5 separate regions of the Homo sapiens genome follow, and regions 2, 3, 4 and 5 are each reported to be linked to region 1. The links are microRNA targets in miRTarBase. Many come from high-throughput screens and were not tested one by one. Region 1 holds a microRNA gene; each other region holds the end of a gene's coding sequence. Distances are between the middles of the regions.

Region 1 (5,104 bases):
GAACGCTGATAATCCCAGGTGTGGGAGACGAGGGCCACATGGCCCCTCCTGGAACCGGCTGCAGTGCAGGCCAAGCTGCGATTCCATGGGGCAGCCAGCCCTACTCAGTCAGGGCTGACCAGGAGAGGCCTGGCAACAAGTCTGCCCAGGCTTGGCAGCTCAGCCCGGGGAAGGGTCATGTCTTGCTCAGGTGTCTGGTGTGACTTGGGGGTAGGCTCTGCTTCCCACCGCCTCTGAGGAACCCAGGCGGCTGAAAGCTCCACCATCCACAACAGGGGTTGGCAAACTTTCTGTAAAGGGTTGGAGGGTAAAGACATCACATCCGGCTTTGCAGGCCATACAGCCTCTGTTACAAATACTCAACTCCAGGCAAAACCAGCCACAGATGACACGTCACAGCTGTGTTCCAATAAAGTTTTATTTACAAAAACAGGTGGTGAGTGGGATGTGGCCCCCGGGCCAGTTTGCCAGCCCTGAGCTAAAACACTGGCAGTCACTGTGGCAAGGGAAGAGAGTGTGTGGCATAAGGATCTCACCATAGCTTATCATTGCTTTGGCCCACTAATGACACTGTCACGGCTATTCCCAGCCTGGGGACAGAATGAGCCACATTGCTGGAAGTACGCTCTGAGTTTCCAGAAGGAGGCAAGGATTGAATATTGATGAACATCAGTAATGCCCAGCACATCCAGCAATGCTATTCTTTGATAAATTTCTCCAAGTAAATTTCTACACAGATCCATAAGGAGATATGTGTGTTAAAAGCTAATTTTCAGAAAAAAAGTAAAATCATGACTCTCATAGAAATATAAAAAGGAACACATTTGAAATTTAGTCTATTCACTTATCAAGGAAGGTATCAGACAGATGTTATCACCAGTTCAAAACAGAATCCAAAGAATAGCCACACTTAGAGATCAGAGATATTTAAATCAATATGCAAGTGAAGGCAAACCGGGCTCTCTCCTGGGGATGGGAGGTATTCACTGGATTTCCACTATACAGCACAGAACATTCCCGTCTATATGAATTCTTTTGTACTGCTATCAGTGACCTACAAGGAACAGAGTTATAAGATAGTTCTAAATGATGACAGAGTAGAATCCAATAACCTTGAGGAGTGTCCTCTAGGCAATGCACAGTTTTCTGTGAACCACAGATATTCTTCTCCATGTGTGAGGTTCTTCCTGCAGCACTGCAGGCCGTCTGGGTACCCACCACCCAGGAAGGGTAAGCGAAACTGGACAGCAGCAAGGTCACTACAAGGTGCAGAAACAGGCAAGCCAGATGCACCCACGGCAACAAGGAAGGAGCTTACAGAGGCAGTGTTGAGTGAAAACACACAGGCAATAGACGTATGACCCATAACCATTTACGTTCCTTAAAAATGCAAACACACGAAACAACACATTATGTCAGAACATATGCAAACAAAAAGATCTCTCAAGCACAGGGAATGCTGGCCTCCCTGGACAAGGGCAATGGGAGTGGCACATAGGGTAAAGTATCTTCACAAACAGGGACAGACACTTCCCACGCCCGATGATGTGAATGCACCGGGGGCACAGAACTGCGGCTGTTCCACCCTCGGTGTCAGAGGTTCCTTCCTCGACATCAAAACGACAAAGTTCAAGGACGTGGTGGCTCACACCTATAATCCCAGCACTTTGGAAGGCCAAGGCGGGCAGATCACCTGAGGTCGGGAGTTGGAGACCAGACTGGCCAATATGGTAAAACTCCATCTCTACTAAAAATACAAAAATTAGCTGGGCATGATGGCGCACGTTTGTAATCCCAGCTTCTCAGGAGGCTGAGGTGGGAAAATGATTGAACCTGAGAGGCGGAGCTTGCAGGGAGCCAAGATCGCACCACTGCACTCCAGCCTGGGCAACAGAGTAAGACTCTGTCTCAAAAAAAAAAAAAGAAAAAAAGGTTCAAGGAAGAAAGGAAAAAAAATTCCAAATTCCTCTCTTCAGAAAAACCATCTACATCAGTGAACAACATCCTGATATTTTTATGCCTGTATATCAACAGAAACACAGGTATGCTTTCATGAAATGGGATCTATCAATGCTATTTTAAATTACATTTAATTTATTTTAATATCAGTTTTCAACATAAGCAAATGAAAGTAAAACTAGTGAATTTTCTGCACCAAAACAGTATGGACCTTAGATTTTAAAATCCTCTGAAATGAGAAAAACAAATGGATTCTGCATATTGAAAGATCACACCATGTGTGCACAAACTATTTCACTTGGAATCACTTTGGTCTGAACACCAGTGATTCTTTTGCCGGACTGCCTTTGTCCACCTTCCTATAAATTAGTTTTACATATACAAAGTTCACAACAGTTTTCATCCCTCTACCACGTTTACCTTTACTTACTGTGGCTGTCTTCAGCCTTTCCTCTAGGGCAGCGGTGTTCACGCGGTAGTGTGCGCTGCAATCACCTTGCTAAACACAGATGCTGCTGGGGCCCACCCACCAGGGCGCCTGAGCCAGCAGGCCTGGGTGCAGCCTAGACACCTGCATTTCCGACAAGCTCCCAGGTGGAGGCTGGGGCCGCTGGTCCAGGAGCCACACTTGGAGAACGATGGATTTCTGTCAATAGCAATTTCAGCCTTGCTATGTCGTTTGTTGCTGTTTGAAATGTATTGGTTTGGTTCTGACACTGTTTCGGTTCTGTTTGCTTCCTGAGGTCTGACATCTTATTTTCATTTCTTAGTCTTATACGTTGTTGACATTTATTTTATTGAATTCATGTTCTTATCAAACTGTTCTCTTAGGCAAAGCACAGGAATATTTTTTTTTTCTGTTCACGAGCTGTGCGTCCTCTGCCTTCCGCATGTTTATCTTGCGCATGCTGTGGTCCCTTCTCCAGCACTGAGTCACGGGTTTCTCTGTGGGACGTTTGCCTGTCACTTGCCCTCCCCTTCCCTGCCTTTCCATTCTCTTCAAGCCCGAGCAGCTCTGACTGGGTCCTCATATGTTTTAACACAGCACTGGAGGGGTTTTAACTCTTTCCACAAAACCTGGCAAAGGCTCGTCTTCCCCTCTTAGCCACAGGAAGCCCAGGCAGTTTGTGTTCAGGCCACCTTCGGGAAGCCTGCAAGGATGGTGGTGGCAGGAGGAGCTCAGCCGAAGTGGAAGAAGGTTCGTTCAAATGCTGAGGCTCTGCTCCTGCTTCTGGAATCCTGTGAAATGGCCCAGACCAGAGCTGGCTTCACCTCATCACAGGGAGAGTGGTGCATCCAGTCCTGGTCTCAGGCCATGCCCACAGGCCAACGCATCCCTGGAGCCTCCACTTCTTACGGAGAGTTTCAACTCACAGTTATCTTCCCATGTCTGCCAGAGGCATTGCAAGACTCCCTGTCTCCAGATCCCAAGCACAGAGGCGGCCTGGGGCTCCGCTTGTGTACCAGTGGGACTCAGGCTTGGTGGCAGGTCAGAGCCACACGAATCTGCCTTCTGCTCTACTCTGAAATCTTTTGCTTATTTTATTGGCTACTAATTTTTCTTTCTTTTTTTTTGAGATGGGGTCTCACAGTGCCACACAGGCTGGATGGAGTGCAGTGGCGCAATCAGAGCTCACTGCAGCCCCAATTTCCTGGGCTCAAGTGATCCTCCCGCCTCAGCCTCCCAAAGTGTTGGGATTACAGGCGTGAGCCACTACACCTGGTCTTTGGCTACAAATTTTCAAAGTGTATGGCCTTGTTTGTTTTCTGCTGGGATTATTTTTCTAGTTTTTCCTTTCTATTCTGTTAGGGACTGGGGGCAGGACACTGTGATTCCGCTTAATCCTGCTGTCTTTGACATTTTTTTAATGTCCATGAGCAGGGACAAATCTTAGTCTCATAAGAATGTGCCTGATTTGGGAAGCAGGCCTCACTCAGCACCGACCGCCCCTCCTGGCACAGCACTGGCATCCCCTGGTGTTCCATAAACACAGAGACTGAGAGATGAGCAGACGAGTATGGGCCCTGGATGCTCCCTGCAGCCCCTCTGCAGAGCTGGACCTGCAGTCCAAGACTCCTTGGGGATGAGGGGTCTAGGGTTTAGTCCCTGTCCCTGGACAGTGATGGAGCTAAAGGCATGGGGCAGCGTCTGTCCCTTTTATGGGGGGAAGCTGAGGCTGCTGGGGGCAGTGCCTGTCCCGAGATGTCCCCAGACTCAGGTGCTCTGCTCCTTCCTTCCCATAAATCCTGGGCCTCCCCTGTGTCCTAAGGGCCTGCGGCCACCTGGCTAGTCCTGTTGCTGGTCCTCCTCCAGGTGCAGGGCACCGGTGCCCGCAAAATGAGCCACCCTGCCCCTGACCACTGCAGCCAGGCCCCTGAGAGGAGGCACATGACTCAGCCCACCCCCTCCTGGCATTGTTATCCTCCTGCCAAGATCCTGAGGCCATGCCAGAAAGGACCTGGGGCCAGCCTAGACCTTTCCATCATTTCACGTAGGCAGCAGCCTTGCCAAAGTCCCCGGGGGCAGAGCGGCTGTTTGGGTCTGGCGTCTGCTCCAGCCTGGCGTCCCCCATGCTGAGTGTGGCCCCAGGGCCAGCGCCGCAGGCTGAGATCCCAAGGCTGCATCTCTGGCTCGGACCTCTGGTCACGGCTCAGGCTGGGTGCCTGGCTGGCCACCTCCCCTCACAGTGCTGTCAGACTCTCAGTGAGCTCATGGCGGGAAATGATTACCTTTCCATGTGAATTCAGGCCGGGTCTGGACAAGTGAGGAGGTGCACTTTCCTCCACATCTGTTTGAAAGTGATTTTCTTCATGGAACTGGCAGCGCGGATCAAGAAAAATGACTCAGAACCGACAAAAACTCCAGGTCTTCCAAGGAAACAAAATCAAACACCAGTGTGCCTAATGGAAGCCTCTGGCAGCCTGGAGAGTGCAGCTCGACAGCCCCTGGTGGTCCCAGGGCCTCTGCTCGCTCGTTAGCCAGGGTTTCCAGCTCAAGGAGCAAGCTCTGTCCACGCCCAGAGCCACCTGCCCCTGTCCCCAGAGCCTTGGGGCCATAGTAACTTTGGAGGAAACTGGTCCCCAAAGCTCGGCCAACCCGCCACCATCCGCAATAGAAGGCAAAGGCTGCAGGACCACCCTAGGT
Region 2 (5,104 bases), not on the chromosome of region 1:
GGAGGGTGGATCACCCGAAGTCAGGAGTTTAAGACCAGCCTGGCCAACAAGGAGAAACCTTGTCTCTACTAAAAATACAAAAATTAGCTGGGTGTGGTGGCGCACGCCTGTAATCCCAGCTACTCAGGAGGCTGAGACAGAATTACTTGACCCCTCATCCTGGGGTTGGCCTTATGCATGTGCAGCTTATGGCTCAGCACATATGCCAAAGACACGGTGCCAGCACTTTTTTTTTTTTTTTTGAGTTGGGGTCTCACTCTCACCCAGGCTGGAGTGCAGTGGTGCAATTGCTCCTGAGCATAAGTGATTCTTCCACCTCAGCCTCCCGAGTAGCTAGGACTACAGGTGTGGGCCACCACGCCCAGCTAATTTTTGTATTTTTTGTAGGGATGGGGTCTTCCTATGCTGTCCAGGTTGGTCTCAAACTCCTGGGCTCAAGCGATTTTCCCTCTACGGCCTCCCAAAGTGCTAGGATTACAGGTGTGAGCCACCTGCACACTTACACACCCATTCCTAGCTGCAGCTTCAGAAACTTCTGACCCAGGAAGTCAGCCCAAACCCCCTCACTGTCCCCCAAAATTTGAGTTCTTCTCAACTCTACCCAAACACTCCCCTTTCTTGGGGTGGCTTAATGCTCTGTCTCATTGCCCTTCCTACTGCCTACCCACATATCACATCTACCAACCTTCCACGCAGCCATAGACGTGTTCTATCAAAGACAGTTCCCTCCCCAAGAGGACTTCTCTGACTAATCATAATCTGCCTTTGGTTGTAATTTTGTGTTGTGAGGCCACCACAAGGGTGTTTGCTGAAGAGGTCCTGGAGTCCCCTCAGAGCACGCTTGCTACCAGGAGTCAGCATGTATGTAACTTCATCAGCTGGGGCTTCTGCTTCTCTTACAAACAGGTGCCAGGGCCCACCTTGGGCACTCCTGCAGAAGTGAGCAGAGGCTTCTGCCATGGGGCCATACCTTGTTTGACCTAGGTGCCAGCACTGGGACAGATGGCACAGCACAGTCCTGCCGTTCCCACAGGGTTTGTGTGTGCATCATGACAGGAAACACAGCAAGTCACAAAGGCTGTCCGATGTCCCTGCCTCAGCTTCCTGAGGACCTGTGCTTTTTACTGAAATACACTATCTCATAAGAATACTTCCCTGCCTTCCGCACCCCAGTGAGAAAGGAGTTGTGACTGGAAGTCAGTGTCATTGACTTTGGATATGAAAAGGAGGCAGAATGTCTCCAGGGTTAAAAGTAGTAACCAGGCCAGGCGTGGTGGCTTATGCGTGTAATCCCAGCATTTTGGGAGGCGGAGGTGAGTGGGTCACCTGAGGTCAGGAGTTCAAGACCAGCCGGGCCAACATGGCGAAATCCCATCTGTACTGAAAATACAGGAATTAGCCGGGTGTGGTGGCAGGCGCCTGTAATACCAGCTACTGGGGAGGCTGAGGCAGGAAGAATTGCTTGAACCCAGGAGGTTAAGGGTTGCAGTGAGCCAAGATCACACCACTGCACTCCAGCCTGGGTGACAGAACACGATTCCATCTGAAAAAAAAAAAAAAAAAAAAAAGCGGGGGCTGGGCGCGGTGGCTCACACCTGTAATCCCAGCACTTTGGGAGCCTGAGACAGGTGGATCGTCTGAGATCAGGAGTTCGAGACCAGCCTGACCAACATGGTGAAACCCCGTCTCTACTAAAAATACAAAAATTAGCTGGATGTGGTGGTGGGCACCTGTAATCCCAGCTATTCGGGAAGCTGAGGCAGAGGAATCATCGCTTGAACCTGGGAGGTAGAGGTTGCAGTGAGCCGAGATCACACCATTGCATTCCAGCCTGGGTGACAAGAGCAAAACTCCGTCTCAAAAAGAAAAAAAAAAAAAGTTAGTAACCAGGTTGTGTCCCACAGAGCTTTACTGGGGGCCAAACACTGTCAACCCCTCCTCAGGTCCCAGTGAGTTTGTGCACCTGGCCTTCTGACAGTAAGCGGTGAGCAGGGCATCCCCCACCAGGACCCCATACTTTCCTCCCATGGGTTTCCTATGGAATGTTGCTGCTTCAACTTCTGAGAGCCTCTTGCTGGGGGGCCCCATCCCTAGCCCTTGCCTCCCTGTGCTGCTTTACCTTCTTTTTGGGAGGATAACTGCCCTCTGTTTTCAGCACCCCAATAAGAAAGAAAAAGTCATGACCAGAAGTCAGTGTCAGTGATTGCTGATGTGTGGAAACATCTGATGAATGAAGAGTTTGGGTAAAAAATAAAGGGAACTGATGAAAACCACTTGTGTGTGAAGCCTATATAGTGGTGTGTGCCTGTAGTCCCAGCTACTCGGGAAGCTGAAGTGGGAGGACTGCTTGAGCACAGGAGTTGGACATCAGCCTTGAAAAGATAGTGAGACTCAATCTAGAAAACAGAAACAACACTTCTGACTGGTGTCTGCCTGTGGGTTTCTGACTCTGCTCCCAAACTTATGGTGAGAACTTCTTTGCTAACTTGAGAGTCTGCAAGAGTGAAGTTTTTGCCAAATTTTGGCCCTTAGTTCCTCTAAAACACTAATGGAAACGTAACCCCATGCTTGTTAAGACCCTCCTTCTGCCCTACCATGATTACCAGATCTCTGCTGAGGTTGCAAGATGAGGTGATCTTGCTGGAAACAAGGACAAATGGGGGAAGAAAATAGGGCTGGACAGGCCCAAGCATTCAGAGGCCAGGGCTGGGGGTAGGTAGGGGCCTGCTTCATTTGAGAACAACTATGAAGGACAATAGGGTTTCAACAGGGGAGAGAGTAGCGGTATTCAAAGCAAAGCAAAAGATGTAAGTGAAAGATGTAAGCGGGCCGGTGCGATGGGTCACGCCTATAATCCCCGTACTTTGGGAGGCCAAGGCAGGAGGATCACCGGAACTGAGGTGTTTGAGACCTGCTTGAGCAACATAGTAGGACCCTGTCTCTACCAAAAAAAAAAAAAAAAATTAAATTAGCTGGGCATGGTGGCTACTGTAGTTTCAGCTACTCAGGAGGCTGAGGCAGGAGGATCACTTGAGCCTGGGAGGTCAAGGCTACAGTGAGCCTGGGTAACAGAGTGAGACTGTCTCAAAAAAAAAAAAAAGGAGAAAAAGAAAGATGTAAGTGTGTAAGTGAAGCCTGGAGATGCAGACACCTGCGAATGGGCTGCTGAGGGGCACTTGGCTATGGCTGGGGCTCAGGAAAAGTGGAGCTCAGGGAAGAGAGGCTAGAACAGGGCTCAAAGGGCCTTGAAGGCCAGGCCTGTCAGGGTCCATCACCTCCTCAGGCTGGAGAAGTCAGTGCAAGCTGCAGTGATGGGGTCCTGAGGCCCCAGTACTTCTGCCCATCCTCTCCCACTGTCTCCCAAGATCATACAGGGAAGCCTGTTTCCAGATGCCTGTGATTTATTTCCAAAGGAGAGCTACAGCACATAGGAAAATACACATGGCTTTTCAGTCTACATTTTTACAGAGAAAAGAGATTCGGTCATTGGCTTTCTCAGTGCCATCATCCTGTTCCATGAGGCTCCAGGATGGATGGCCTGTCTCCAAGATCCCGCTTTCAAAGCAGCAGCTTGGCCAAGGCCTCTGGGGGTAGGAGTGAAGGGCAGCGACCCCCATGTGCGGGTGGAGGGGAGGACATGAGCAGCACTCACTGCAAAGCTAAGGCAAAGAATAGAGCTGGTGGGAGATGCCTCCCCTCACCCCAGGGGCATGGCTTGCTGAGGCCCAGGATACAGACCAGGAGGGGTGGGGATGGGGGTCTGGTCCAGCCTGGAGCGGCAGCAGGACTCTGAGTGTACACATGGGTGTGGGGTGAAGAGGGGGGCATGCTGAAGAGGAAGCCTACCAGGGTATAGAGGGGCTTTAGCTTGCATATTCCCCCTGCCCCAGAACAGCTCCCAGACCATGGTCCCCAATCCTACACTTGGCCCCTCTCTTAAGTTCTACTTCAGGTGGGGGTCCTGCTCAGGTTCCTTCTGCCACCTTATCCCCTCCCACTGTCAGTGCAAAACATTCTTAGGGCCAAGCCCCTGAGTCCCCTGCACACTGACTGGAGCTGCAGGGAAGGGAGGACAGCAAGGTGCTAGCTGGGAGCCTCCCCCAGCACCAGGAATTCCTTGCACATCTCTCGGACAATCATGCGGTCCATCTGGCACTGGGGTGAGGTCTCCTCCTCATTCAGGATGCGTCGCAGTATGGCCTGCAGGTCGGGTAGCCGGTGGCGGTGCTGCAGGTAGGGTGTGGTGCGGACTATAGCATGCATCAGGGAGAGGTACTCCATGCGCAGCTGTGGGAAGAGCAGGCCAGCTCAGGGACCCCAGGGAGGTACTGCAACCACCACTGGACAGGGACAGGACCCCACTGTCCCACAGACCCCAGGGCTGTGGACCTGAACATCAGGGCTGCATCCCCAGCACCCACAATATACCTGGCACAGAATTGGTCTTCAATAGTTTTTGAGTAAGCGAATAAACGAATCATCCCAGCCACAGACAGCCCCAAGTATGTGGCCTGCCCAGGGAAGTCCTGCCCATCCTTTGAAGCTGGGTCTCTCAAGGTGCCTCTGTCTATCAGTCAGAGGCCCTCTGCTTCTCACCCTATCCTCTCTTACCCTGGAAGACCTCGTGCACATTCACAGCTTCAAATAGTGAACCACTCTCATACCTCTTACCTAGAACTCCCCTGTGAGCTCCAGACAAGAATATTCAACTGCCCACTTGACATCTCCTGCACATGTGACAGACCTCAAATCCACATATCTACCACCAAACTCATGATCTTTCCCATCCTCCCAGAGTTGAAGGTTTTCTCATGTTCTTACCTTTAGAAAGAGCACTGTTGCCGATTCAAAAGCACAGGCCTGAAATATGGTGTCCTCTTTGCTTCTTGTCTCCCACATACCTCATATCCAAGCCATGTCTAAGACCTGGCCATCCTACCTCCTACATATGCCCCAAATTCATCTCCAACAGCCTCTCCTCCAACCTATACTCCCAACACCTCTGGCTGAACCAGTTCCAACAGCCCTTATGATCTATATATATATATCATATATATATATATATATGATATATATATATATATATCATTTTTTTTTTTGAGAC
Region 3 (5,104 bases), not on the chromosome of region 1:
GAAGGAGCCCAAGCGGCCCCGGCCTCTCAAGGTCAGCAGCTCTGGCCAGACTAGGAGGGGTGGGCCATCTCCCTAAGGTGGCTTCTTGCCCACGAGCTGTTTCCTCTTCCCACGTTACTTAATCTCTCACCCCCTCTATTTCAGCTGAGCGTGTTTTTCCCCATCGTGTTCTGCATATGCTCCGTGTTTCTGGTGATAGTGCCCCTCTTCACTGACACCATTAATTCCCTCATTGGCATCGGGATTGCCCTTTCTGGAGTCCCTTTCTACTTCATGGGTGTTTACCTGCCAGAGTCCCGGAGGCCATTGTTTATTCGGAATGTCCTGGGTGAGCTTCTCTGTGCCCCATTACTCACTGGCGGCTATGTGTGCATGCGCATGCAGAGGTGGGGGGTGGCTAACAGCTTCCCCATACTCAGAATTTGCTGGAGGCCATGTGACCCAGCTGTCCACGACTTCCCTTTTGATTTTGACATGATCACTTTAGTTCTAATTTTAGTGTCCTATTTTGGGGCTAAAACATTACCTCCTGACAACACAAATCACCTGGGAAGATGAGTTGTGCATCAGACTCTGGTTGGGCATGGGACAGAGGATGATGAGGCTTGTTGGGAGACAGGGGCAAAGCCTGATATAGGGTACTTAAGGGGCAGGTGGCGAGGGAGCCATAGATGTTACTAGTCAGCCTTGTTCAGGTTAGGGCTGTAGCTAGATGTTTACTAAACCCTGTGCTTGCTCTATTTTCATTTAGCTGCTATCACCAGAGGCACCCAGCAGCTTTGCTTTTGTGTCCTGACTGAGCTTGATGTAGCCGAAGAAAAAAAGGATGAGAGGAAAACTGACTAGAGGTCAGAGGTGGCTTTCTGAGGCCTGGAAGGCAGGCCAACCAGCAAAATCCTGATAACAAGACTCTGTGGGCCCAACTCTCCTGAATTAAAGGAGCCTTTTGACCCAATCATATAGTGGGGCTCAGGGCCAGTGCTCACTCTTATTGGTAAGCTATAGGAGACTCAGGATCTGGGCCAACCTCAAGGTGGGGGCTTCAGAGGGTGGGGGGAAGATTGGGGAACGGGGGGAATGGTCATTTAGTTTTACTCCTGATAGGTAGATGCAGCTCTTACAGATATTTACTTGGTAAAGTGCAGTGGGGAAGAGGGAATGCTAGGTTGATAGGGCTGGTGGCTTCTGAATTTGGTATTTGAACTAGGAGTCCCTATAGAGGGGCTGCTTTATGGGAAGTTTTTCTCTGACCAGGTACAACACCTGACTTTAAAGGCCTGAAATGCTACCATTTCTTCCTCTGGCTCAAAATTCTTCCCTGGGGAGAGAGTTATATTCCCTTATTTATTGATATTTAGTCCAGAACACCAGTTCTAACGAAGCATGCGTGTCTCTTCATCTACAGGATGCAATAGGCTGATTGTATTTAAAAATCAAAGTACCCAAAACTGAGTCCCTTTGGGCTCAGAAATGTCTGTGGTATTGGGTCAGACTCTGACCACAGGTTTTATGCTGTTTAGCACAATTTCTATTGAGTCTTACCTGCAACAATGAACCTTAAAGATTTTTTTACTCACGTACCTGTTACACTTTAGCATACAGATAGATCATAGATCACGTTACAAGCACTTGGCTCAGGTCCAGCAAGGACAGATGAACAAATTCCTGAGTCAGAAGTCTGTTAATATTGCTGTTTTGAAGGACAATCCTTTATTTTACTTGAGACCTTACATCTTTGTTCTAGCTGACAGTAAATCTCTGGGTTTCTGTTACGAACTCTAAGAGGGCTGAAACTTCTGATATTCAGGTGGATCACCTGAATTCTCTCAGCTGTCAATGGCTTGGAGAACATCTCATGGGCCCAAGTCATCAAATAACCTGTTCCTCTCTGTAAGGGCAGTGTGAGGGACTGCTGTGCAGACCCAAGCAATCCCAACCTGGTGCTAGGTCATTTCACTTTTCTGAAAACCTCACATCAGGCTGCATCCTCTTCTGTCCCTGGCACCAGGCTTTGTTTACACTTGGAGCCACCTTGGTGTGGGTCACCGGGACAGTGTACTCCTCTCCTGCCAGCCTCCCCTTCCCCGAGGTGTGGTGGCTGCAGTCTCAGGAAGAGCTTGGTACTTGTGGGGACTTCTGTTTTCTCCCTGTGGAGATCAGTGAAGACTGGGAGGAAAGCTGCTTCAACCTGAGTCCGGCTCTTCAGCAGGCTGCACAAGTGGAAGCAACTAATTCTGGTGCTCAGGCTGGGCTCTCCACCCAAGTTAGGCCTGCTCTGGCCTAATGGATCTTACTGTATGAGCAGGACGGCTGCATTGGATTGTACAACTGTTTTGTGATGCCCCCAGACACTGTCATCCTGGGCCGAGAAGAACCTGCTAGCTTGACATACCCCATGGGCTTATCCTTAGGTTTTGGAATTGGTCAACAGTGAGGCAGTCTCCCTTCCTGACCATTCTTCTCCACCCAGTCACAGATAAGGGAATAACCTTGGCCATATATTTGCTCAATAAAGATTGAAGGAAGCATGGTCATAGTTGCCCTGGGTTCAGAGCATAATGCATATGTGAAGCATGGGGTGACATTCCTACTGTCATGGGTTTGGGATTTGTAACGGCAAATTCCTGCCCGACGACAGGGTGTCTTATGCAAAGGCTGACTTGCCTGAACGCTAAGAACATGACTTCTGTCTGAGCTAAGCTGGCACCCATCCCAGGGCTCCTCTGGAGCTAATCCTTTAAGCAAAATGTGCTTGCCTTTTAAAGATCCCTGACCCCAGCTTTAGCTTTCTCCACCAGATAACCAGCTAATCCCAGGAATTTGCTGCCCCCCACCAGTGGCTTCTAGGGAAAGCAAGGACCTCACATGCCAGGTGCCCTAGTACTTGCTTAGTGAGCCATGTCATCCTCCTTTCATTTTTGGATGGTGACAGCATTTTTCCCCTCTGTGCTGGATACAGACTTCTCCCAGGATCCTCTCTTTGGGAGCGAAGCCAGAGGATCCCTACAGCACTCAAGCTTCATGGTGGAATTAATTTCTGCCAGCTCTTTGTTGTCTGTCTCCTTAAATCCTTTTCCTGGTGTGCTTATTATCCCTTTTGCAGTGAGTACAGTTTATTAAGTTGTCAGCCCTTTAATATTGGGGAAACTTAATGAGTATAAATAGCAGGGAGCACATTGTAACAGCACAGTGTTTTGTTTTTTTCACCCGGTTGCTGTATGAGAATGGCTTTCAATCCTTTGTTTCTATGCCTACAGACAGAAAGCAAGATGTCTAATATTAGACATACAAGTTGCTGCCTGTTATAACGGTGAATTATACCTTTGTGCATGCCTAGGATGTTTGTTGTTTTAATTAGCTGCAATATATACGGCCTGTGTACACAGAATTTAATCACTTCGGCAGGTTGAACAACTCCATGTAGATAAGAGCAAGTGTAGGCAAAGGTTTAGAAAATGGACATAAAGTCAAAGAATGATGGCAGGTAGGATGAAGGAGAGATACTTAGGAAATCCTAAAAGAGGCGGCAAGAAGGTACCTCCCTGTGTAACTCACCTTCCCCCATGACAGTGAGTAAGAGACACTCACAGGCTATGAGGGTACACCCCTAGCTGAATGTTCTGTGTTGTTTCCTTAGACCTGTGGTGTCCGCTGCAACAGCTACTAGCCACGTGTAGCTAATTACATTAAAATGAAATAAAATTAAAAGCTCAGTTTCTCAGTTGCGCTAATCACATTTCAAGTGCTCAGCAGCCACCCGTGTCTACTACTACACAGTGCAGACACAGAACATATCATCACTGCAGATAGTTCTACTGGACAATGTTACGCTAGAATAAACACCAAGGCAGTCAGTTAAGGCAGCTATGGTTTGGAAAGGCATACGGACAGAGTCTGCTTAGAAGAGATACAAGTTGTTAATAAAATTGATCCTGTTGATAGTAGTTTGTTTTTGTGGTGGGTGCTGTGAAGAGTAAACATTACTCAGTGGAAAGCTAAGTTCAGAAGGTACTTTGTTTTTCCTCCCTTGCCTTAAGTCCTTGGTATTTATAATCAATGCTGAACCTTCTATTTCACTACCGCTCCCTGTTTTAGATATTCAGATTTAAAAGGTTTTCAAAGAATTACTTTCTTCCATGTTCAAAGCTAGATTTTACTAAACACATGTATCACATTCATATATATTGTTTCTTGGCCCCACTGCCAAAGGAAGTCAGTCAGTAATTTCACAACCGTTATCAGAGTTTGGAAGCAGAAATAGCTGTTAACTAAAATCTCCCACTGCTCAGACTACTTTCTGCCCTAATGGCCATTACTATCCAGTCTGTATTGCTACAAGGGACCCACTGGTACCCCTTTTAGATTCTATCAAAAGGAACAGGGTTTTCCTAGAGGCAGGCAGCCTGGTGGTATGGCACAGCAGAAGCTTACTGCTAATGAAATGGGAACCTCCCCCTCCCTTGTGGTTTCAGCACAGAACCTGAATGCCAGGAAAAATTCCTGGGCCAAGAAGCTAAAGCTAAAGAAACCTTCCTTTTTTCAACGTTTTTTTTTCTTTCAAACTGTAGGGTCACTTTTGATTGAGGCAAAGGGGTCCTACTGTAAGTGGAAAAGACTCACTCCCCTAACATAAGTTTTCACTGTGGTGGGATGGTGCCGCCCGATATGCTTGATATGCTTTTCCTTCCACATGTTAAGCTAGGAAACCTAACAGGATGTCAGCAGGGCAGTTAACTCTGGACTCAGAGCCCTCAAGGGCATGTGGCAGAACCTCATGGACATCACAAGACCATCAGTCTGAATCCAGGTCGTGGGGGCTGTCATAGCCGAACTCCTTCTGCACATCCAGAGGGTACTTGCTCCACATCCGCTGTCTGCTGCTGCCTCTTTCCTCCTCACTCAGGCTGTTGTAGTCAGCAGAGCCTAGAATGACATCCCGGGAGTGGATTCTAAATGTGATTTTCCTAGGCTACTGCAGGAGCCCCTTCTCTTCTCAGAAAGGTCTGTTTTTGTTCCCGATTGTAATGCAAAATCCTTGCTCAATAAATAAAAAAGAATATAGAATTCTTTTTTTTTTAAAGAAGGAATCACTTTCCTATCATCT
Region 4 (5,104 bases), 940 kb from region 1:
CCAGGCGGACCTGAGGATCTGTAGAAGCTCACACCTGACAATGACGAAGACACGTTCATCTCGTGTCCATGGGATAGTCACCGAGACTGCTGCTAGTTTATAAAACAGACTCTCAGTACATGTTCAAAATACTGAAGTCCATATACAGTATGAGCTCTGACCACAACAGACATAAATTTGAAATAAAAAACAAAAATACATTTAGAATATCCACCAAATATCTGAACATTACACAGTATAAGTCTAAATAGTCTGTGGTTCAAAGAATAAATCACAAGGAAATTATAAAATATTTTGATCTGAGTGATTCCAAAAACACCATTGATTAAAATTTGGGAGATGCAGTGAAGAAGGCGCTCAGAGGGAAATGTTTAGCTTTAAATGCTCATACTAGAAAACAAATAAATGTTTAAAATCAATTAAGCTTCTACCATAGGAAGCTAGAAAAAGAGGAGCAAATTAAAACCAAAGGAAGTAAAATAAAAGGAACAATAAGAGTGGAAATCAATACAAAGCAAACAATTGAGAAAATGATGGTAAATGTCGCTTTTTTGGAGAGACTAATAAAATCAGTAACCCCCTAGCAAGACTGATCAATGGGAGAAAAAAAAGGAGAAAATATAAATTACCAATACCAGGAATGAAACAGGGAAATCAATAGAGAGCCCGTAAGCATTAAAGGATAATAAAGGGATATTATGGATGATTTTATGCCAACACATTCAACAACTTGGAATCAAGCATGCTCTGGGTAACACAAATTACCAAAACGGGCACAAAGAGAGAGACAAAAATCTAAAGAACTCTATGTCTATGAAAACATTAGAAGTCATTAAAAAAATCCTTCCCATAAAGAAAGCTCCTGTCCCATAAAGCTTCACTGGACAATTCTACCAAAATATAAGGAAAAAAAAAATAGTCCCTATTCTAGACAAATTTAATTGATAAATAAAGGAAAAGAAAATACTGTCCAAACCACTTTACAAGACCAATGTAACCTTGCTATCAAAACCTGACAAATATATTACGAGAAAATAAGAGGTCAGTCAACAAAACAGCACATCCGTAGAATATAGAAACATAACTTTATGATCATCTCACCATAGGCAGAAAAGGTATTTGACAAAATACAACAGCTGTTAGTGATAAATACCCTCTGCAAACTAGGACAGGTGGGGACTTCCTGCCTGTGAGAGCAGGGCAGCTGCAGAAACCCCACTGCTGCCGTCAGCCTGACGCTGAGACATTAAACACGTCTCCAAGGCGAGAAGGTGCACACTCATCACTGAGATTCAGCACTGTATTTGTGGCCTACACCGTTGCAATGAAGCAAGAAAAAGTACATAAAAGGCAGAAGATGTACAACTCTCATTAGTCACAGAGAGTTTGATTATCTACTTAGAAAATTTAAAGGAATCTACAAAGAAGCTACTAGGCCTTGTGAATTTAGGAAGGTCAGAAGATACAAAATTAATATAGAAAAAAATGAGATTATATATTAAAAAATAAACAACTGGAAATGAAAATTTTCAAATGCCATTTATAACAGCATCAACAAGATCAAACACCTAGGAATAAATCTAACAAAAGATCTACGCCCAAGTGGGCTGTTTCCAGGAGGTTCTACTTGGAGGGAGAAGGGCCGCTGGGGGCCGGGGAGGCTGCCTGGTCCTGCCTCCTGGGCTGGATCAGTGGCTTTCCTGTTCCTGGGTTCCTGGCTTTCCTTAAATAACCCCCTCCCACTTTGCTGTATGTTGAAAACTAGAAACATTGCTGAAAGTAATTTTAAAATACTTACATTTCTGTTTGTGAAATGGAATTTATACTTTATTTCCATTTTCCTTAACTTGATATATAGATTTGGTGCAGTTCCTACCAAAATTTCAGCAAGCTATTCTGAAGAAATAGACAACATGAATCTAAAACGTACACAGAAATTCAAAGGATGTAGAATACAAAAAACCTTTAAAAGGGAGAAAAACATTGGAGGACTTGTTCTTAATTTCAAGAGTTATTGTAAAGCTACAATATTTGCAACAGCATGGGATTGACACGAGGATGCAATGAAACAGAAGAGAGGCTGTAAATAGACCTATGAATGTGTAGTCAACTGATTTTTAACAAAGTTGTCAAGTCAGTTCAATGGGGAAAGGAAAGTCTGTTTAACAAACGTTACTGGAACTGGGATATCAGTATGGATAAAAATGAACCTTGACCCCCTTTCTACACTGTGCACAAAATTAATATGAGGTGTATCATAGACCTAAATACAAAAGCTGACACTGTAAAGTTTCTAGAAGAAAACACAGGAAGATACCGTCCAGACCTCAAAGTAGGCAAAGGTTTCTTAGACAAGATACAAACAGCCCAGACCATAGAAAAAAACTCATTCATAAATACGACTTCACCAAAATTGAAAATACCTGCTCTTTGAAAGACACAATTAAGAAAATGAATAGGTAAGCTGGGTGTGGTGGCTCATGCCTGTAATCCCAGCACTTTGGGAGGCTGAGGTGGGTGGATCACTTGAGGTCAGGAATTTGAGACCAGCCTGGCCAACATGGCAAAACCCCGTCTCTACAAAAAAACACAAAAATTAGCCGGGTGTGGTGGTGCATGCCTGTAATCCCAGCTACTTGGGAGGCTGAGGCAGGAGAATCTCTTGAACCCGGGAGGTGGAGGTTGCAGTGAGCTGAGATCACACCACTGCTCTCCAGCCTGGACGGAGTGAGATTCTTTCTCAAAAAAAAAAAAAAAAAAAAAAAAAGAAAGAAAGAAAAAAGAAAAGAAAATGAACAGGTAAGCCACAGAGAGGGAGGAAATATTCATGCCACACGTATCTGATAGTATCTAGAATATATTTTAAAATGATCACACATTGACAATAAGAAGATAAAAATCCAAATATGAACAAAATATTTGAACTGACACTTTTCAGAAGATCTACAAACGGCCGATAGCTCATGAGAAGTTGCTCAACATCAATAGGCATCAGGGAAATGCAAACTAAAACCAAATCAGACAGGATTTTACACCCCCTAGCAAAAAAAGACAACATGGAGTGTGGGTGAGGACGTGGAGCACCCTGGACGCTGTAGCTGCGGGAATGAAACATGGAAGAGCCACTTCGGAGAATTTCGTGGCAGTCTCGTATAAGGTTAAGCCTATTGTATGACCCTGCAATTCCACTCCTAGTTATTTATCCAAGAAAAATGAAAATATATGGCCACACGAAGGCTTGAGTAAGAATTTCACTACCTCCGTATTCATAACAGCCCCAAAATAGAAATAACCCAGATGCTCAACTATGGTGATGAACCAACAAATCATGAGGTGTCCATATGACGGGACGGCACTCAGCAACAAGACACACCGGCGCCCACGACGCACGTCCATATGACGGGACGGCACTCAGCAACAAAGACACACCGGCGCCCACGACGGTACATGTGAGTGTCAAAAACAGTAAGTGAAAGAAGCTGGCACAGTGGAGGACCTGCTGTGTGTTCCACTGACCATGAAATTCAACTATGGCTGGGCACAGTGGCTCACGCTTGTAATCCCAGCACTTTGGGAGGCCGAGGCAGGTGGATCACTTGAGGTCAGGAGTTCGAGACCAGCCTGGCCAATATAGTGAAACCCCATCTGTACTAAAAATACAAAAATTAGCCGGGCATGGTGGTGCACACCTGTAGTCCCAGCTAATCCGGAGCCTGAGGCAGGAGAATCGCTTGAACCCGGGAGGCGGAGGTTGTAGTGAGCTGAGATCGTGCCACTGCACTCCAGCCTGGGCAACAAGAGTGAAACTCCGTTTCAAAATAAATAAATAAATTCAAATATGCCAGGCTGATCTATGGTCACAGAAGTCAGGCAGTTGAGGGGTGGGCACTGGCTGGATGGGAGCATAGGGGACCTTCCATTGGAGGCTTCCACGTGTCATGGGCTCAGGTCCTGGCTGTGCGCTCTCCAGCACGCAGGTACCCTTGTCCATGACAGGGGTCTCCAACCAGCCCTGTGCGCCGTGTGGGTTCACCTGGATGTGGTGCGTGAGGACGTTTGGGGGTGTGACATCTGGGGCTAGAGTGTGGTGACAGCACCTCCTCCAGGGGAGGATCTACCCTGTGGGCTCCAGGATGAGGAGTGTCCCCCTAAAGTCCACAATCAGGCAGCTCAGGGAGCAGAGATGCTCTCCTCTCACTCTTTCACAGACCACCCCACACAGTGAGGAGAGTTGGCCAGGCCCTTTATTAAACATTCCCGGGAGGCTCATGGCCTGGGGACTGCAGCTCATTTGGAAGGCACTGGGTTTTGCGCCCAAGTGGACTGTTTCCAGGAGGTGCCACTGGAGGGAAAAGGGCTGCCTGGGGCCAGGGAGGCTGCCTGGTTCTGCCTCCCGGGCTGGGTCAGTGGCTTTCCTGTCCCCAGGCCTGGAGGACCTTGCAGGGTCTGTTTGCTCCTGATCCCTCAGGGTGGGCATGGGACAGGTGTGTGCCAGTGCCAGCTGTGTGCCAGTGGGCAGGTCACAGCTTCTTCTTGGGGCAGTGCTGCAGGGCCGCCCTCAGGGCCTCCGTCACGCGGTCCACATTCTCGCGGGTGGCATTGCAGCCCAGCAGGCCGATCCGCAGCACCTGGGGGGCACAGGGCGGGCTGACGTCAGCCTCCCGCCTGGGACCTGCCTGACCCTGACCGACAGCTGGCCAGAGCCAGGATGGGCTCACCTGAGTGAGGACCACCCACCCAGCGTCCATGAGGGGAGTTGACAGCCCTGTGCAGGTCACAGAGGGGGCCCTTGAGCACCCAGGCCAGGGCAGGCTCTCCTCCCTCTGCACCCGCAGCCACACGGGAGGACAGGGTGGTGCAGTGAAGGTCCCTCCCCACTGCCACTCAGAGACACAGCCAGGCCCAGGCGTGGGGCTTCCGGCCTGGTTCCAGGGTCTGGTCAGAGGGAAGGAAGGATGTTCCGAGTGGAATCATAAAGGCTGCACCTGGTGACCTCAGTGGGCTGGGGTGGGAGCAGGGGCGACAGGATACGCTTTACTGGATACCCCTTGGAGAGTGGGCCCTTCTGGACGCTCCTGCAATCTGGGCTTTCGGATGACCCCGG
Region 5 (5,104 bases), not on the chromosome of region 1:
TATTAAACGGGGAACCCCCAACTCCATCTGGTTCTCTCTGCATCAGCACTGGGGAGGGCTATGAGGAGAAAGAGCTAGGGATTATTTTTTGGCTTTCATGGATTTCTTCCTCAGGGATCAGATATAAAATTTAGACTGACCTTCGTTTCAGAAATTGTAAGCTGGACACCATTGGCTTCCTGATGGTTTGTGATCTCTTCAGTCACCTCCATAATGGAGTGACCAGCTCTCTTTAGCTTCTTAGAGATATGTTACTGTTGGCCGGGTGCAGTGGCTCACACCTGTAATTCCAGCACTTTGGGAGGTCAAGGTGGGCAGATCACAAGGTCAGGAGATCGAGACCATCCTGGCTAACATGGTGAAACCCCGCCTCTACTAAAAAAAAAAAAAATACAAAAAATTAGCCAGGCTTGGTGGTGGGTGCCTGTAGTCCCAGCTACTCAGGAGGCTGAGGCAGGAGAATGACCTGAACCTGGGAGGTGGAGCTTGCAGTGGGCCGAGATTGTGCCACTGCGCTCCAGCCTGGGCGACGGAGCCAGACTCCGTCTCAAAAAAAAAAAAAAAAGAAAGAAATATATTACTGTTTTGTGTGTGTGTGTGTGTTTTTTTTGTTTTTTTTTTTTTTTTTTTTTTTTTTTACAGTGACAGTGAATCCTAAACCTGAATGGCGCTCATGTTTTCCAAGAGAAGCAGCCCCTGAGGGAGTCTGCTGAGGCTGCCAACAGAGGATGAAGAGGATACAAATTTAATTAATTTCAAATCAACATAGACACAAGAACCTTTTGCTGTTTCTTCCAACGCCCACTCTTCCTAATGATGGCATCACTTGCACTTGGAAGAATGTGCAATTGAGAAGTACTAGGAAAAGGCCTGGCTGCCATCCATCGCTGCCTCTGAGGGTGGAGAAGGAGGCGGGTGATGTGCTCACTTCTGATCAACATGTGTTGCCTCCTCTCAGCCAACTTCTAGCTCACTGAACTCACTCTGGTCATGATAAATGTTCGTCACCTTTCTGCTTCATTCCTTAGGGCCTAAATCAGGAAGCTGTTTTATCGATGGTTTCCTTTTGGGTCAGTAACCAGCTTTGGATAATTTCCTCTGATTATTCAAGTCGTGGGACAGGTAAACTACATTCAGCAGGAACTTTTCTCGAGGAGTGTTATGTCATGGAAAAGACACCAAACACAGCAAGTATTTTAATGAATACACCATCCCAGGGGGTCAGTAAGCTCTGCCTGCCAAGAAGACACAGTGAGAGGGGTCCACAGTCCTGATGAGGTGGCGTTTGGTAACTTGTAGACCCTAGCATGGCCAGGTCTGGTCACCCTTAAGAACTTCTCAGAGAAACTAGGAATCTTCAGTGAAAGAACTAATGTTCTCCTCAGCTGAAATTCCCTTGCTTGTCAGCATTTCTGCAAAGCTCACACTTGTTTCACCATACCTCCCTTGGATGTGACATGTAGGTAGGAAGTATGTGCAGGTGGGAGTCATCTGTCAGCCTTCTATGTTTCAGAGATCCTGAAGGTGGTTTGAAACAAACAGAAGAGGAGCAGGAAATATCCGTGCCTGTGGCAGATCTCACTCATCATGCTTAGCATTCTCTCCCGCCAAGCTGGGATAAGCCTCATGTCCTAACACAGCACAACAGGAGGTCTCTGTCAGTCCATCAGAGATGACATTCTATGTGATATTTTTGACATCCTTGTGCTAAAAGCAATGGCACAAAATGGAAAAGGGCCTATTGACCACACCTACTCCAGTAAAATTGTTCTTCATTTATTCCTTAATTTTCTAAATCTGACCCCTTTAAAGCAATCTAGCAAATTGAGAATCCTCAGCTCTCCTTGGATACCTGATATTTTATTTCAAGAAAGAGACAAAGAAGGAAAATTTTATTTATTTTACTACCCACATATAAACCGAAGGGAGATGGGACTACCCAAACATTTGCTGCTCAATTTTGTGTCTTGTGCTTGAAAGTCTGCCCTAATGCATAACAAAAACTACTTGTCTCCTACCTTTTGGGATCCCTTTAACAAGTATTTGCCTTCTGAACTACGTGGATAATTTCAAAGGCAGAGTTCCAGACCAGAGAGGTCTTTCCATACAATGAAAGCTATAACTAGCTGGTTGTGTTTAACCACTGCTATCACGCTATCCTGGGACTGCATAGAACTTTGACAAAAGACAGACTTCATGGTACACAACTTCAACAGATTTTCTGTCATATTCTCACCAGCACATCTGAATGAGGCTTTGTGTTTTCCTTGCTCTCTTGCATGTTCCTTTTCAACTCATGGCCCACAGTGACTCTCAGATATTTATGCCAAAATTGCATACAATTGTTTTCTGAATCATAACTTGTCTATTTTTCTGCCTATGTGTGCTACTTTCAGTTTGTTTCTCATCAACATTTTGACTCTCAGAAGAGCCTCCATTTGCCCCTTTCTCTCTTTAGGTATCTAAGATCTTTGAACACCTGGGCCTTTACATTTGATCCAACCCTATCAAATAATGAACTTCTCAGAGAGGCATCTGGGGTCCTGGAACTTCATGTTGATGAAGTCATATTATATAATATGATAAAAATATTCTCATGCAGTATTTTAAATAATTTCAAATTCTAGAAGAAGCAAATTTCAGCGACATGTCATTGAGTTTTTATTTGGTAAAGCTATAATTGTGCAGTGTACAAAGCACTTTTTAAAAAGATAGTTTATTCTGTCAGGGTATATGAAGTTAGTATACAGCCAGAACAGCCAAGCCTCAATTCTTGTACCTTGTGTCTTTTTATTACTGTTTAATCAATAGATATCATATGTTTATGACAGTTTCAAGAATTGTTTTTAAACCCAAACTTAATTTTATGTTTCAGACTATTGTTAAAAAAACAAAACAAAAACCAAAAAAACCCTCACTAATTTGCCCTAATTGGATAGGGCAATCAGAACAAAATCTGACTTTCGAATATTTAAAAGATATGTAAGTTTGATTGCATTTTCGTACATTTTAAGCAAACTAGGTTAACAACAACATAGCCTAGTCAAACTTCTCAGGAAACTTGTTTTAATAAATATGTAAAAATACCCATTCATGACTCTTGACCCAATGGTGTGACTCCTCCCTCTGGGAAGGGCTTTGTTACCCAATGCAAGACCACAGCCTGGATCCACCTTGATGTAGGTGGCTCCTGGATAACCCACATCAAACAAATGTGATAAAGATGAGTAAAACTGGTCTTGGGAAAATAATTTCATAGTTTTTTTTTCTCCTAGTTATGCTGTATAATACAGGAGAACCAAAAGCTGTAAAATTATTTTATTTTATTTTTTAAAGACAGGGTCTCACTATGTTGCCCAGGCTGGTTTCAAACTCCTGGGCTCAAGCAGTCCTCCTGTCTCAGCCTCCCAAAGTGCTGGGATTACAGGCATGAGCCACTGAGCCCGACCAGCTGTAAAATTATTATATTCATTTTCACTATGTGCTACTTCTTCTCACCTGACTTTTTTTTTTTTTTTTTGAGATGGAGTCTCACTCTGTCACCCAGGTTAGAGTGCAGTGTCACGATCTCGGCTCACTGCAACCTCCGCCTCCCAGGTTCAAGCAATTCTCTTGCCTCAGCCTCCCAAGCAACTGAGATTACAGGCCTGTGTCACTATGCCCAGCTAATTTTTGTATTTTTAGTAGAGATGGGGTTTTCACCATGTTGGTCAGGCTGGTCTCAAACTCCTGACCTCAAGTGATCCACCAGCCTCGGCCTCCCAAAGTGCTGGATTACAATTGTGAGCCACTGTGTCTGGCCACACACTGACTTTCACTGTAATATCTGGATGTTTTATGTAACATATCTGGGCAATAGGGCTTATGGCAGAATTGGCCCTCGTGGTGTAGGCCTTCCAAGTTCCAAGTCTCATTTTTAGTATTCCTCCGTTCCAACCCCTGGATCCACCAGTTCCAACAGCCTGGATCCACCTTGATATTGACAGCCAGGCAGATGCTTCTGCTGATCACCGCAGCTCTAGCAATGGAAATGGATATGTTAAGAAAATACTTGTCTATTCTTTTATTTTGGTGGTTTAAACTATTAATTCACACCATCTCTGAAAAAAGGCCTTATGTTGACTAAAGAAAACATAGGCTTTAGTTTCAGCTTCTGTCAGAATTAGTACCAATTCTGAATCTGGTGGAGTGATAAGACATGGTTTCATGCTGGGAAGACACTGCTGAAATCCTCCTTGTGGGAGAACATGGAAATTTTATACTGAATTAAATTAACGCATGTGACTTTTCACATTCAGAGACATTCAGGATGAATTCTGGGGTTTCCATTTAATAGCTATAACAGGCAGTCCAGAACAACTTCACATATAGCAGCATTTCTGCTATGTGACAATGACCAAAAGAGTTCCTGTATATTAGTGTCTAGTGGAATATTTCAAATTGCAGAACCCAGACAACCAATTGCCTGAATTATTATTATTTTTTGTTTTTAGCAACTCTTTGGCTTTATCTTGATACTGTCTTGTCTGGCACCAAAGTTTTATTTCCTTCTTAGTCCTCTTGGGGATAGTTTTTGGGTGTTTTTTTTTATTTTTCTTTTTTTGAGACGGGGTCTCATGCTGATGCCCAGGCTGGAGTGCAATGGTGTGATTATGGCTCACTGCAGCCTCAACTTCCCAGGCTCAGGTGATTCTATTACCTCAGCCTCCCAAGTAGCTGGGACTACTGGTGTGCACTACTAGGACTGGCTAATTTTTTGTATCTTTTGTACAGATAGGGTTTCACCGTGTTGCTCAGGCTGGTTTTGAACTTCTAGGTTCAAGCAATCCTCCCACCACAGCCTCCAAAAGTCCTGGGATTACAGGTGTGAGCCACCATAACTGGCTGGAATTATTTGTACCTGGACCTTGTGTTTTGTTTTTTTGCCCTACTATCTTTTCTAAATAACATATCATGTTCCTGAGATAGCAGTATATACAATTATGTAAAATAGAGCTTTATATGAACTCTGTACATGCTCTAAGCTCTTTTTGAATGATATTTTAAGAAGTTTCTAAACCAAAGTGCTTAAGAAAACATGAAGATGTTAATTTCATGAAGACTG

What was found. Region 1 holds the annotated microRNA hsa-miR-4786-5p (UGAGACCAGGACUGGAUGCACC, at 3,249-3,270, opposite strand). A microRNA usually pairs through its seed, bases 2 to 8, with sites in the 3' UTR of a target mRNA and lowers its output. Matches are read on the target gene's strand: a 7mer-m8 pairs with bases 2 to 8, a 7mer-A1 pairs with bases 2 to 7 and ends in A, and an 8mer does both.
Region 2: the mRNA of NCKIPSD is a reported target of hsa-miR-4786-5p. The part of its 3' UTR that is shown has no 7-base or 8-base seed match.
Region 3: the mRNA of SLC7A6OS is a reported target of hsa-miR-4786-5p. Seed matches in the 3' UTR shown: 7mer-A1 at 1,721-1,727.
Region 4: the mRNA of AGXT is a reported target of hsa-miR-4786-5p. Seed matches in the 3' UTR shown: 7mer-m8 at 3,613-3,619.
Region 5: miRTarBase lists TMEM154 as a target of hsa-miR-4786-5p. Seed matches in the 3' UTR shown: 7mer-A1 at 3,341-3,347, 8mer at 3,717-3,724 and 7mer-A1 at 4,611-4,617.

Annotation. Positions count from the first base shown.
Region 1 is chr2:239,939,815-239,944,918 of GRCh38, forward strand. MIR4786 (microRNA 4786) reads right to left here and starts at 3,280; the gene lies at 3,201-3,280. It also overlaps a transcript of NDUFA10 not described here. RefSeq lists an enhancer at 4,971-5,104.
Region 2 is chr3:48,670,461-48,675,564 of GRCh38, forward strand. NCKIPSD (NCK interacting protein with SH3 domain) reads right to left here. Exons shown (of 13, transcript NM_016453.4): 13 at 3,384-4,287. The coding sequence ends at 4,084. Among named protein-coding and RNA genes, the nearest start is that of LINC02585, 9.2 kb to the left of the region's middle.
Region 3 is chr16:68,296,483-68,301,586 of GRCh38, forward strand. It overlaps SLC7A6OS (solute carrier family 7 member 6 opposite strand), which reads right to left. Exons shown (of 5, transcript NM_032178.3): 5 at 1,552-4,923. The coding sequence ends at 4,793. SLC7A6 (solute carrier family 7 member 6) reads left to right here. Exons shown (of 11, transcript NM_003983.6): 9 at 1-31; 10 at 145-328; 11 at 752-5,104. The coding sequence ends at 846. Among named protein-coding and RNA genes, the nearest start is that of SLC7A6OS, 12 kb to the right of the region's middle. RefSeq lists a silencer at 1,504-1,798.
Region 4 is chr2:240,878,238-240,883,341 of GRCh38, reverse strand. AGXT (alanine--glyoxylate aminotransferase) reads right to left here. Exons shown (of 11, transcript NM_000030.3): 11 at 2,842-4,628. The coding sequence ends at 4,521. Among named protein-coding and RNA genes, the nearest start is that of AGXT, 12 kb to the right of the region's middle.
Region 5 is chr4:152,624,100-152,629,203 of GRCh38, reverse strand. TMEM154 (transmembrane protein 154) reads left to right here. Exons shown (of 7, transcript NM_152680.3): 7 at 643-5,104. The coding sequence ends at 658. Among named protein-coding and RNA genes, the nearest start is that of TMEM154, 53 kb to the left of the region's middle.